Homo sapiens: one gene and its partner. The protein of the gene in region 1 interacts with the protein of each later gene in a biochemical or structural test. Each region holds a gene or a part of one and is shown on either strand. Other genes may lie near its edges.

Region 1 (7,035 bases):
GGACGGATCACCTGAGGTCGGGAGTTCAAGACCACCCTGACCAACATGGAGAAACCCTGTCTCTACTAAAAATACAAAATTAGCTGGGTGTGGTGGCACATGCCTGTAATCCCAGCTACTCAGGAGGCTGAGGCGGGAGAATCACTTGAACCCAGGAGAAAGAAGGTTACCGTGAGCTGAGATTGTGCCATTGCACTCAGGCCTGCTGGGCAACAAGAGGAAACTCTGTCTCAAAAAAAAAAAAAAAAAAAAAAAAAAGAAAAGAAAAAGAAAGTGAAAAGATGAGCCACAAACATGAAAAAAATATTGCAACATAAATGAGTGAAAAAGAATTATTACTAAGCACATATTTTTTAAACCATTGAGGAAAAGATAAATAACCTGAGAGACAAATGCATGAAAGACATGAACAGCTATTTAATATGAGCAAAATAGGATGGCCAAAGAAAAGATGCACAAACACACAAATAATCAGAGAAATTCAAATTAACATCATGAGGCATTACCATTTCATATCTAGCAGACTGGCAGGAAACATAAACCCTGACAATAAGTGTTGGCAAGAATGTAGGGTACTCTCCTTCACTGGGGGTAGCGAGTAAGTTGGTACGACCACTTTGGAAAACAGTTTTGCTTTACCTAATATAGTTGAAAATACACAAGCCTAGAACTGTTTCATATATTCCCAAGAGACACTCTTTGACAGGTGTACCAGGAGGTATGTACATGAATGTTTATAGCAATTAAAAAGAATGTCTATCAAGAGTAGAAAACTCTACAGCAGTGAAAATGAAAGAACAATAACACAATGGCTAAATCTCAACTTTGAAGTTCAAGCAAAAGAAAATTAAAGGAGAATACTCAGAGTATGATTACTTTGATATACAAATTTAAAACGAGTAGATGTACTCATCCATGGCAAAACTATAAAGAAGAGCAAGGAAAGGTTATCATGAAGGTCAGGAGAGTGGTTACCTTCAGAGGGCGTGCAATGAGGAAGGGACACGTGGTGGCTTCTAAGGGAGTAGCAATGTTCTACATCTTAGCCTAAATGGAGGACATATGGATGTTCTCATTATTCTTTAAACTGTACATATTTTTATGTAGTCTATTATATGTATATCTCAAAATAAAATTTTTAAAAGAAATAAAGATTCTACATATGTATACACATGTATGTATGTGTGTGTGTGTGTGTGTGTGTGTGTGTGTGTGTGTTCCATGTATTCCATGAAGGAAAACAAAAAGGAATCCTTAGTGGGAAAGTGACAGTAACCACTTTACTAGACTTACTAAATTCTCTCATATGTTTGGCTGGCTGAGAGAGAAACTTCAATCAACTAAGTTTACCACAAAGTCCATATAATACATATAGTTTCAACTAAATGTATGCTTGAGAAGGATTATCACATTTCTTATTTAATCTATTAGTTGAACTATGCGTTCTTAGGTTGTCCTGCTTTCATTTGATTAAAAAAAAAAAAGAAAGAAATTCTTAATTAAAAGGTAAAAATCTAACCAGGTGTGGTGTAATCCTAGCACTTTGAGAGGCCAAGGCAGGAGGATCACTGGAGCCCAGGAGTTCAAGATCAGCCTGGACAACATAGGGAGACCCTGTCTCTAAAAAAAATAAAAAATAAGCTGGGTGTGGTGGCGCACACCTATGGTTTCAGCTACACTGGAGGCTGAGCTGAAAGGATTACTTGGGCCCAGAAGGTCAAGGCTGCAGTGAGCTGTGATCAACTACTGCACTCCAGCACTCAAGCCTGGACAACAGAGCAAGACTCTTTCCCTAAATAAATAAATAAATAAATAAATAAATAAATAAATACCTAGCTGAGGCCCAGTGTGGTGTCTCATACCTGTAATCCCAGCACTTTGGGAGGTCAAAGTGAAAGGATTGCTTGAGCCCAGGAGTTTAAGACCAGCCCTGGTAACAGTGAGACCCTTGTCTCTACAAAAAATTAAAAAATAAAAAATTAGCCAGGTGTGGTGGCATGTGCCTATAGTCCCAGCTACTCGAGAGGCTGAGGTAGGAGGATTCCTTGGCAAGCTGAGGCACCAGTGAGTCATGGTTGCACCACTGTACTTCAGCCTGGGCAACAGAGCGAGACCCTGTCTCAAAAACAACAAGAACAACAACAAAAAAAACTAGCTGAAACATTCTTTTCTTAACCTTCATTTTTTTTCCCCTTTCTATGTTAGCTATATCTTCCTTGGGTGAAATTGGAAGAGGAAAATTGCACCAAAATCCAAAGTCATTTTTATGTCTAACATCGAGAAAGCACTAAAAATTTAAAAACAATCTGTTACTTGTTTGGTTATATTATTTACATTAATTGAATTAAAACTAGAACAACTAGAACCTCTTTTCAATGTATTAAACATAATACAGAGTTAAAGAACTAGAAGGAACCTTCAGAAGTTACCTAGTACAGTCACCTATCTTTAAATAAGACTCAAATTATCTTAAGCAAACAAGTTATCATTCTAATCTTAAAATATCTCCTGAAAAGATCTTATAGCATCCCTTCCTACTGAAAATTTTTTGTCTAACTCAGAACCCTTTTAACACAATGTTGTCATACAGTTAACATTATTATCCAGACAACCACCAGTTAAGGGTGTGGAGTTACCTAGGGCATAATGGGACCCTAGCAAGAATCTAACTCCAAGTCTCTATTGGTGGAAATGGGAGGATAAAGGGATCAGAGACCTGACTGTTTGGCTCCACTAGCTCCAACCCCACCAACCCCCTGACTTTCCCCAGTGAGTTAGCCCCAAAGCTTGTCTTCCTCCACATAACCAGAAGTTAACTATTATTTGTTTTCACGCTGACTCGGGTTTATCCATAAAATTTATCTTCCCCAACTCCTCCCATCCAATTATCTCAGTATCAAGAACTGATTTATACTTCCAATGAGTATGAATAAATACCTAGAATATTTTTCAACCCTAAAATTATGTCATTTACAAATAAAGGAAAGAAAACCTCAAATTTTCTAAATTTATGATATCTTTAATAAAATAAATATATTAGAAAATCTTTTTCCTCCTAGTTATGGACAATTTCATCTGATAAAGTATATTTCCTTTTAGAAGATTAAACTTTTTTAGATTAAAAACTCCTTGATGTCAGAGACTAGTTTTGTTTCAGTTTTTATAGCTGGCACACTCCACGTGCATGCCCTGGGTAGAAACTGAAAAATATCAATTGTGTTTAACTGACACGATAGAAAATCTCTAAAGCTTTGCCTTACATGGTCATTGCATTCTTCTTCCTCATCACAGTCTAGACCCTGATGGGCGATCTCAGTAGTGCTGTTCTCCCGAAACAGATTGTTCTCCAAATCAATCACTTTTGTAGCCTCTGTCATGACTTTTACTTTCATGCTATGAAAGCCAGTGGAGACAAATCCCACTTGCACGTTGATAGGCTCCTTGTCAAACAGCAGGAAGTGTGAATTTACCCCTTCTTTAAAACCGAGGGGTTGGTAATCATGTGGGGTCACTGCGAAATGAAAAGGGCAAAAAGCCATGAAAACTGAGTTTCAATACAACAAATCCGATTAATCTTTCATGTGTAGCAACAGACTTCTCTTTCAGATGCCTGCAAAATCCTTTTACTTATAGAAAATATTAGCTCAGCACTTAAGGAGGAATTTGCCTAAAGTTCTCTACCTACCTGCATTATAGTAGTGGAGTTTCATAGTAAGTACAACATTATTAGGAAGTGGCTCAAGGTCCTGCATCAGTATATACAATTTACGGATCAGTAGAACACTGGCTTTCTTAATATCTTCATTGTTTGTTCCACTTTCAAAGCTTGTACTGCTGCTATGACTACACAGAAAAAAAAGCATACTTTTTGATCATATACAATAGTGGCAATCTATCCCAAAAGGAACAAAACTTTTGACTATGTGAGTAAATATAAATTAAACATTAGTATATTTTGAGACTTTTTTAGAATGTAAATTAGGGGAGCGATGGTACTTTTTGCAATGTATATACAAAGAATTTCTTAAGTAGCAAATTCCCTAAAAGCATTTAAAATACGATCTTTTTAAAAATTTGATTTGAAAAAAATCATATACCACAACAGTAAGAACAACGAATTTGGAATTAGGTGACCTGGCATCTAATATCAGCTCTGCTGATAACTAGCTGAATGACCTTGGTCAAGTCATTTAGACACACTCTAGGTCAGTTAGCTCATTTGTGAGATAAGCGTAAAGACATTTCTACAACTCTCAAGCATAAAATCAATCACCAGCTCTGGGACTTTCTACCGTCTGATTATCTCGCAAAAGTATCCCTTCCTCACTCTTGCATTGATTACTACAGTGGCTATCTAACTATTTTTCCTGCTTTCCTTCTTGTCCACACTACAAAATATTCTCCATATCACCGCTGAAATAATATTACTAATAGGAAAATCTGTTCATGTCACCTTCTTACTTAGAATTCTTCTATTATATCCATCAGTTTTCAATCAAATTCAAAGACAGTGTGTATACAATTCCTTTCACAACCCGTCATATCCTCACCTCCATCCTCATCTGCAGCTATTGCCCAGTTTCCTCTCACTCAAAGTATTTGCATATGCTGTTCACTTTGCTTGTACTGTGCTTTTCCACTTTTCTTCCTGACTGTCCTAAATTTATCCTCTAATACCTAGCTCATGCGCAGACTCTTCAAAGAAGTCTTCTCTGATAATACCCTCATCTCATCCTCAGGATAACTATTTGTCCTTCTCTAGACTGTGAGTGGCTATATCTTTCATCTCCACAGTACAGAGTTTGGTGCCCAGCTATTCAATCAACATTTGTTGAATTAATGAATGAATGAACAATTTGGACTAAATTACCTTCCAATTCTAAACTTTGTTCATTTATCTCCAAAGTTTCCTTCCACAATTAGTCTCACATTTGAGTAGTTTCCAGGAGGGACCATGACTATAATATATTTACACATGGCTGTGCACATAGTTAGCTCTTAATATGAAAAATAACCCTAAGTAATTGAAATGTTGGATTTTTCCCTAACTGATCTTTGGAGACAGTGTGAATTCATGAAGCAAACATTTATTAAGTGAATACATTAGCTCCTTTTCCAATTTTGAACAACTTAAAATTCTGCCAACCAGGATTTAACCAATTCAAATGTAGGTAACCAGAATGAAGGGCTATAGATATGTAGCTCATGGGAGCCTCCAGGACACATCAGTAAAATCATATTCAGGACTCCCATTTAAACAAATGCCTATATTTCTTCTCTAGGAAATTAATAATATGCATCACCTTCTCTCCTTAGCATGTGAAAGATTTGGCCATTTTTGTTTTACAGCTTACCTCTTGGCATATGTGCCTTCAGAACAAAAGAGTTTAATCTGGCCATCAGTGTATATTTTTGAGTTTTGGAGAGTAAAGGTAACTTTTTATGTGAGAAAACGTGTATGAAAAGTGCTGCTGTATAAGCTGTAAAGTATTATACAAATGTTAGCTAATAAAAGGTAATATTTTAATTCTCATTTTTGGAACTGATTTTCTCTTCACATTCTAGTGCTGTCTGTAGGTTTTACAAATGGAAGGATAATCAAGGGAGTGAATCTTGGAGAAAAGTCCTCAAGCTCATGGCAAATGATGAGCCAGAGCTAATAGTAGGGAAAATTGAAAATTAGGCCATGTCTCTCATCAGTCTTTCCTTTCAAGGGCATCCATCCCCCTTACTTGGATTCCTCTACTATCCAGAGCTTTTCACCATCATCTGTACCTTCCACTACTGTGCCATCTCATCAGCAATACTTAGCTCTCCATCCCCCCTGGCAGGTCTGAATCCAAAAGCTACTGGGAGAAAAATAAACGTTGCTCTTCAATGTCCTTGTGTTTGCTATTTAACCCATTAGTAACCTAAAACTTGGAATTTTCGACTTCATAAGGAAACTGCAGTGCTTTCTAATCTTTTCATACAAGGACACAAGGAAATGATATTTATATGACATACTGGGGTAAGCAAATGAGAATATTTGTGCATACGGGCAAATAGTCCAAGGGTATTATCTACCCTAGGCACAGGCTGGCTATATCGAGGTGGAAAGGATCGCTATCTAGGCATAGCAGTTGAGAAACTTTGAATTAATGGCTAGACAGAGCCTTATGGAGTTATTCAATCAATAGCGTGTAGGCAACCTTATTGACATAATTTCTACCTTTGTGCTGCATGCCATTTTCTCTATTCCCACCAGCTTAATCCATGGATTTCAGGAATGTAAACAATTGTTGCAGCCCCTTTTTATAATAGTGGTTTTCTGTAGGGTTTGTGGGGAAATGTGTAAAGAAGTATAAGGCCTTTCTCTGGCCTCAAGAAGCTTATGTTTACCTCAATCCTATTTATTTCTCATGTTCATTAAGCAGTTAGATTCTACCTGTCAAAATCCATAGTGGCTCCTTCTTTCGTGTATTTGAATTTGAACTGGTACATCTCAGTCACCTTCTACAAAAACCAAAGGAAATAAAGAAAAAAAAGAATTTAGAAAAGAAATCCAGAATCTTACCTGATCATAAGTAAGGAACATTTTCACTGTATATCTACTGTACTTCCTATATAGCTGTTTGTTTCACAGTATCACATTATTCAAGAGTAATATTTCCAAATATAAAGACAACCTAGTTTTTCTCCTCCATGCTAAAAATAAATTAGATGAAAGATACTATTATTACCATTTTAAAGCTGGAAAAACAAAATCACAGAGTCAAATATCTAACCAAACTAGGTAAACAACAGTGGAAACAGTTGAGAAACCATTCATTCATGTAACAAATATTGTATTGAATGTCTACTTTGTGCCAGTCACTGGAGTCACAGCGGTGAACAAGACAGAAAAGGTCCCTGTTTTTCTGGAATATACATACAATCCAGTAGGGGAAATAGTCAGTAAATAAGTAAACAAATGAAATAAGCTAATTCCGATAGTGTAAGTGCTGTGAACAAGAAGCAGATGCTGTGATAGAGAGGTACATGAAGGGGACAAGT
Region 2 (7,035 bases), on another chromosome or scaffold:
TGCCAAAGGATCAAACAAGCCAATGGTCTAGTAGAAAGTGTGGCATATTATTATATTATTGGGTATAAATCATAATTTAAAGAATAACTCACATTATTCCTTCTCTTAAATTCTGAATTGAGCCTCTCGTAAGTCTCATAAGTCATCTCTATCCCTGCAAATTCATTTTGCCAGGTCTCCCAAGGAATAGAAAAGTCATTTGTTGATAATGAAGATACACTTTCAGACACTAAAAAATGAAAACAATCTGCTGAAGTTAAAATATGCATTACTCTAAATTTAGCCTTGTAATTAGGCTAAGAACAAAATCTATCTTATTTTCCGAATCTATGTGTAACCTAAGGATTATGAAATCAAAGGCAGAAGAGTTCCTTATGTTTTTTTTAATTTAAAAATCAGATTATTCTGATTTATAAAACAAACTTTTTGGTATGGCTATTACAGCAGAAATGACTACTTTAAGCTGGAACATTTATGGATTATTTTTAACTGCTTTTTAACTAGTTCCACATTATTATTAGGTATTTAGTGAGGTACTAGCACATCAGTAAATTCATACTCTAGTTAACCTAAATGTGATAGTAAGTGACAGAATGATGAGGGAGATCTATGGGCATCTAAGACCCTTACTACAACAATTATTCATATAAATGTGAACTTTGCAATAAAGCATCATCCATCTTGGACATATCCAAAGTTGTCTTTACAAATTTGTTTTGTAAATAGACTCATTCAAAATATAAGAACCACCCTCCAAATAACTGCATTTTGATACAGGCTACTGATCTACCTACTTTTGTGGATATGATGATCTGCATCTTCAATTTTACACAGTTTTTTGGGAAGCAAGTTTGCTCTCCTTTCTCCTTTCTCTTCCATTTCTACTTCATTGGAATTACTTAGATTATCTTCTATATATATTCTTTTGCGACTAAGATGTTGGGTGGGGCCTTAGGAACAGTTAAAGAAAGTTAAAAGCGCTGCAATTTTCATTAAAAATACCTCATATTTTCTTGCTTTTATTTTAAAAAGGCTTTGTTTCCACTAAGTATTTTTATTATGTTTTAGGTAATTATGCATTCAATTCTACCTAGTTTATTTTCTTTTTACATTAAGTTGAATAACGGTATGACTTAAAATACATAATTCCTTTAGTTGAAATGTCACGTAGCATTTCAGTAATCATTTTTTAAAAAGCAAGACTATGACTACAAACCTGATACATGAGTAGCATCACAGGGCATGTCAAACCACGTTTTCTCTCTTCCTTCACTAGACTTGGATAATGAAGATGCTAAATGACTTTCCTAAAATACGTATTAGAAATTAGAAAAAAATTCCGTAAATATATTTCAATTCACATTTTATCACCTTTCTCAAACCCAAAAACCAATAATTTTAAATGCTGTCAATTCTTTCTCAGATTGTTTCTATCCCTTCCTTTTCATCTCTAATATTTACCATGTGTTAACCTTGATTCTAAGTTGACCTCAATCTTCTTGTAATAGCTGTGATGTGAGCTACTTTTTTTTCTATTCCTGCTTTTCATTTCTTTATTAGGATTTCCATTTCTTTGAGTCAGGAAATGAGGAGCCACAGAAAACTAAAGTTTAAACTACTCGTCTTTCAAACCACATCTTTCACATCTAACCTTATGTTATACTATTTGAATATACAGGTTTTACTTAGTAACCTTTACATAGGTTACTGATTTTTCTCCACTTAATCTACATATACCTACCCATCCACTTAGGTCTAGCTCAAATCGCAGCCCTCTCCAAGTTGTAAAATTCTGTCTTGATTTTCTATATTTTACAGGTTACTAAAATATTTTTATTGATGGATGGATGGGCTTTTATGCTGGCAGGAAGTTCAACCAAATACCTATATATTCACGAAACCAGAAAGTGCCTATTGTAAATATGCAATCCGGGGTTCAGCAGTGGTATCCTCACTATTTAAGACCTTACTACTCTCATTTTAAAAGTTTCAACTTTCTTCTATCAAAAAATATTTTTCTATGATCAAGCCATTCTATATACTTTAAACATCAGATTTTCAGGTAATAACAGTTGAAAAGCATTAAAATATTATAATTACCACTAAAGGTCAGTAATCTGAGTCTTATAAGAACCATCTTAGTGTAAGGAAAATTTATAAGTTATAGTCCCACACTTACCTCTCTTTTGCTTTGTATATAATTTTCATTGATATGTGGAGATTCAATTTCCATAAACCGTTCTTCTGAACTATAACTGCTTACATCTGAATAGCTGTTACTGTTTTGTGTTTCTTGTGTAAGTACCAGAGAACTTATTTTTTTTCTATTTACAATAGTATTACTCTTAGTTGGAGTATGTCTGGGCTATGAATGAAGACATACAAAAACCCAATAAGAAGTTACAAAATTGTTCAAAGCCCCCCACTTCAAAAAGAGTTGAACATAAGAAACATTAAAGCAAAACTGCAAAACTACTAATTCACTGCAAAAATTCAATTCCAATTCATAACTAAAAATAAAAAATCCTTAGGCAAGTGGATTATTACTTTGATGACCAAAACCTGTAGATAAGGATCCCTGCTAGTACAGTTTCTATGCTCCAGAGGTCAAAGTCACCTTAACAAGAACACGAATAAGAATTTTTTGCATTTTCTGTTCTAATCTTCATGTGTAACAGTTTATATGGCTGTCTATACAGAAAAGCCAAGAGAATCTAGGCAGACAATCATGATAAAATTCAGCAAGGTTGTTGGAGATAAAACAATCAATAGTTTTTCTATATAAAAATTTTAAAACTCAGAAAATGTAATTTTTAAAAAAAGTCTTTTTTTTAATACAGCAAAAAGAAGACCCATAAAATACTTAAGAATTAATCTAACAAGATGCATAATTTCCTTTGTAGGAGACTTCACCCAACTTTGCAGGAAATAAGACAAAAAAGTGGAGAGAGAAATCATGTGTAGATAAGAAAGATCAACATCAATATTGAAAAATGGCAATTCTTCCCTTAGACAAACTAATTCTAAAATGTATATGAATCAGTAAAGGGCAAAGGAATTCTGAGGAATGGTGGGGCAGGGGGTATGTAACACCCTATAAATGTAAAATGACCCCAATTAAAGCAATGCTGGTATTAGCACAGAGATAGATAAACAGGCCAGTAAACAGTAAAATCTAATGGTGCCTAATCCAGGCCCATGTGATCACCCAGCCTATGACTAAATTAAGACTATTCCACTCCTGATGTCGCACTAATTTGATATCCATATGAAAAAGAAAGCCTGGAGAGACTCAAATCTAAAATTTGAGTCAAATTTAGACTCAAATCTAAAATAAGAAAATATTTTTATGACAATAGCTTAGGGGAAGATTTCTTAAACAACCCAGAAGATTGGTAAATTTGATTATGTCCTATCTTTTGTCATAGGGAAGTTGTGTAATTAACTGAAAATATACATACTAGGAAAAGAATGTTTACATTATATACAACGAATAAAGAATATCCAGAATATATTAAGAACTCATACAAATTTGTAAGAAAAATCAAGCAATGCAATTTAAAAATAAGAAAACAAACAGGAAATTCACAAAATGGCCAAAATCATGTGAAAATACTCATTGATGCAATGAGTCAGGAAAATGCAAATTAAAGACACAACTTTATGCTTACCAGACTGGCAAAAACAGAAACAACTGATAACATCTACTTAGTTAAAACTGTAGAGAAATGAGCACTATCTCATAGCAGTGTTGAGAGTGTAAGTAGGTTCAACTACCATATAAAGCAAATTTCCAACACCTTATTAAGAGTTGACAGTAAAGGGGCAGCATGGGGGAATGTCTCATGAGTGTCCAGCCAATGAATATGTAACTGTTAAAATTCCATCTAACACAGAGTAGCATCAAAGATGGTGGGTGGGGATTACCTAGGCTTGGAGATTTTGCAAGGTGGCATACTGAAGGGATTAAAGGATGCGGGGGAAAATAAGAATGACAGAAACAAAGGGATTGGTTCTAGGACCTCTTGTGGATATCAAAATCAGAAGATGCTCAAATCTGTGATATAAAATGGTTCAGTATTTGCATATAACCTATACACATCCTCCCATATACATAAGTAATCTCTAGATTACTTATGATACCTAATACAATGTAAATACTCTTAAATAGTTGTTATATGTGTTGTTTAGGAAATGGTGACAAGAAAAAAAAGTCTGTACATGTTCAATACAGACACAATTAAAAATATATATTGTTGTCTGTGGTTGAATCCACAGATGTGGAACCCACAGATATGGAGGGCCAACTATATTGATAAAGGATCACAGGAGAATTTGTGTGAATTTCACTAGTGTGAAACTGGGTTTCAAATTGTGGTCTGTAGAAACTCAGAGTTTTGAAAATATGCCTTGGGGATTATTTGGGAGAAGGAGGTGAAGGAGGCTAGGTAGATCTAGGGTTTAGATCTCCTACCTCTACTTTAAACAGCATAGTTCTACTTTTATCTTTCTGACACACAATGGTCCCTCTTAGCTGCAGTTTTGCTTTCCAGGGTTTCAATAACTCATGCTCAACCATGGCCCAAAAATATTAAATGGAACATTCCAGAAATCATTTATAAGTTTCAAATTGTGCACAATTCTGTGTGGTGCCATGAAATCTCTGGCCATCGGGTTGTCCTGCCTGGGATATGAATCATCACTTTGTCCAGCATATCCATGCTGTATATGCTACCTGCCTGTTAGTCAAGTAATAGCCATCTCAGTTATCAGATTGACTGTGGAGATATCGTAGTGCTCAAGCAACCCTTATTTTACTAAATAATGCCCCTCAAAAGCAAGAGTAGTGATGCTGTAGTGTATTGTTATAGTTGTTGTTTTGTCATTGTAATAATTTATAAATTGCATATTTATAAGTTAATGTTTAAATTAAACAATCATAGGTATGTATGTATAGGAAAAAAAGATAGTATATATAGCATTCAGTGCTATCCTCCATTTCAGGCATCTATTGGGGGGGTCTTGGAACGTATTCCCTGAGAATAAGGGGTGATTACTGTACAGAGTACAGGTAAGAGTTTTGTAACAGGAATGATCACTTCCTAAGAGATACTACTAATTGTTCTACACATTAGAACTACACACATTTTCTAGATCTGAATAGGCTTATTCCTGCAATGCAGGTACTTCTTTCAGATTTCACCATAATTTAAAGTCTATGGCCTTTAATAAACTTTAGTTACAAAAATTACAAGTTGACAAAGTAAATTGATAATTTAGTTGAAAACAGTGTAATTACAATATTTGGTTTAGGTGTTTATAAGGAAGTTTAACAGGTAAATGGTAGGAATATAAAAAGTAAATATATATTGAAAAGAAATTCTTCATTCTTCCTCATCTATGTATCACATTATATGTATCATTTCTTCTTAAAATATAGTAGACCCTCCTGAAATCACAGATAGTACCTCACCCTATTATACTATGCACAGATTTCTTTTTCCTAATTTCATGGAAAGATGATTCATTCTTACCATAGATCTTAGCAACTTCCACATACCTTATTTTTGGTTCCTTATTAAGCACAGAATATTCACCATTTCACTTAAAGGAAAACTTTATGGCTTCTCTTTGGCCTATCTGAATTGTCAGCATCAATACTCTTGCCCTTTGGCGGTATTGTTAAGTAAAATAAGGGTTACTTTAACACAAGCACTGCAATACCTCTACAGTTGATCTGATAACCAAGATGGCTACTATGTGACTAACAGGCAGGTAGGGTATACAGCAGCATGGATACTCTGGACAAAGGGTTGATTCACGTCCCAGGAGGGACAGAGTGGATGGCTCAATATTTCATCACACTATTCAGAATTACACACAATGTAAAACATATGAATTGTTTATTTCTGCAATTTCTTATTTAATATTATCAGACCACAGTTGACTGTAGGTAACTGAAACCTCAAAAAGTGAAACCACAAATAATGAGAAACTACTGTACTCTCCTGCTACCACATTCTTCCTCCTGTATAGCTATACATTTATTTGTCTGTTAGGTTCATCAAGACTGGCAAGTATCTCTCTCTTGTCATTATGTCCCTCTCCCCCAAGACCCTAGACCAAACCCAAAACCTTAAATAGACAAGCAATGTGTATCTGATTAAGATGATAGGGAAAATAACTTACTACCTTCAGATATATCTGATAAAGAGAAAAATATATATACATTCTCACCAAAAACAGTGGTCGTGGAATTGGTGAACAACTTTCACTTGCACACAGGAAGTTTTTCTCATTGTTTTTGGGTGACTTTATTGTACCTCCAACTCCACTGTTACTATTTAAGGATTCAAGTGATGAAGTTTTTGGATAAGGTGATATAGATTTTGTTATGCAGTCATAATCCTGAGTAAAATCCTTTTCTGTTATTTTCTCTATACCTATATTGCATCAAAATAAAAAAGAAAATAGATGGCAAGCGTTATCATTGATGTCTGCTTTAGAAATAGCACGATTAATTTAAATTCTAAGAATTTGTCAGATCTTCAAATCTTAGCTATAAAAAAGGATAGCTTTAAAAATATTAAGACCAAGTTATATTTAAAATATTTGTAAGACTGAAAAACAAAATGGCTGAATTTAAAATGTACTTGTAACCACAAGAACTTTCAAAACATTTTCCAACAAAAATATCTACAGTATGACCTGAAATATAAGGATCAACCTAAGTATTATCTTGAGTATTCTGACATCATAGCTGATTGTGTTATATATACACATCACAAAATTTTATGATTGAAAAAGGCTTGAGAAATCATCTGCTCTACATCTTTCACATAAAAATTAGAAAATTTACTGCTGGAATAAATCTTAATATAAATAAATCCTCAGACAATTTTCAGATCGAATCAGGGCATGTACATCTATCTCCTGAGTATGCGCTTATGTGAAATTTCATAGTGGTCCTTAGTACTGAGAACACAATAGCTACTTTAGAGGAAGCAGAAGTATACTAACTGATTTAAGTCTTGT

Evidence for each region. The genes of interacting proteins can lie anywhere in the genome.
Region 2: the proteins of HORMAD2 (region 1) and SYCP2 form a complex in vitro, tested with the Homo sapiens proteins (one study listed by BioGRID).

Annotation. Positions count from the first base shown.
Region 1 is NC_000022.11:30,118,440-30,125,474, reverse strand, and holds part of HORMAD2 (HORMA domain-containing protein 2), read right to left. Parts: intron 6,720-7,035; exon of another isoform or gene 6,565-6,719; coding exon of another isoform or gene 6,557-6,564; intron 6,496-6,556; coding exon 6,428-6,495; intron 3,844-6,427; coding exon 3,686-3,843; intron 3,512-3,685; coding exon 3,261-3,511; intron 1-3,260.
Region 2 is NC_000020.11:59,867,619-59,874,653, forward strand, and holds part of SYCP2 (synaptonemal complex protein 2), read right to left. Parts: intron 6,444-7,035; coding exon 6,238-6,443; intron 2,366-6,237; coding exon 2,180-2,365; intron 1,308-2,179; coding exon 1,217-1,307; intron 951-1,216; coding exon 795-950; intron 230-794; coding exon 93-229; intron 1-92. UniProt on the Homo sapiens protein: Major component of the axial/lateral elements of synaptonemal complexes (SCS) during meiotic prophase. Plays a role in the assembly of synaptonemal complexes.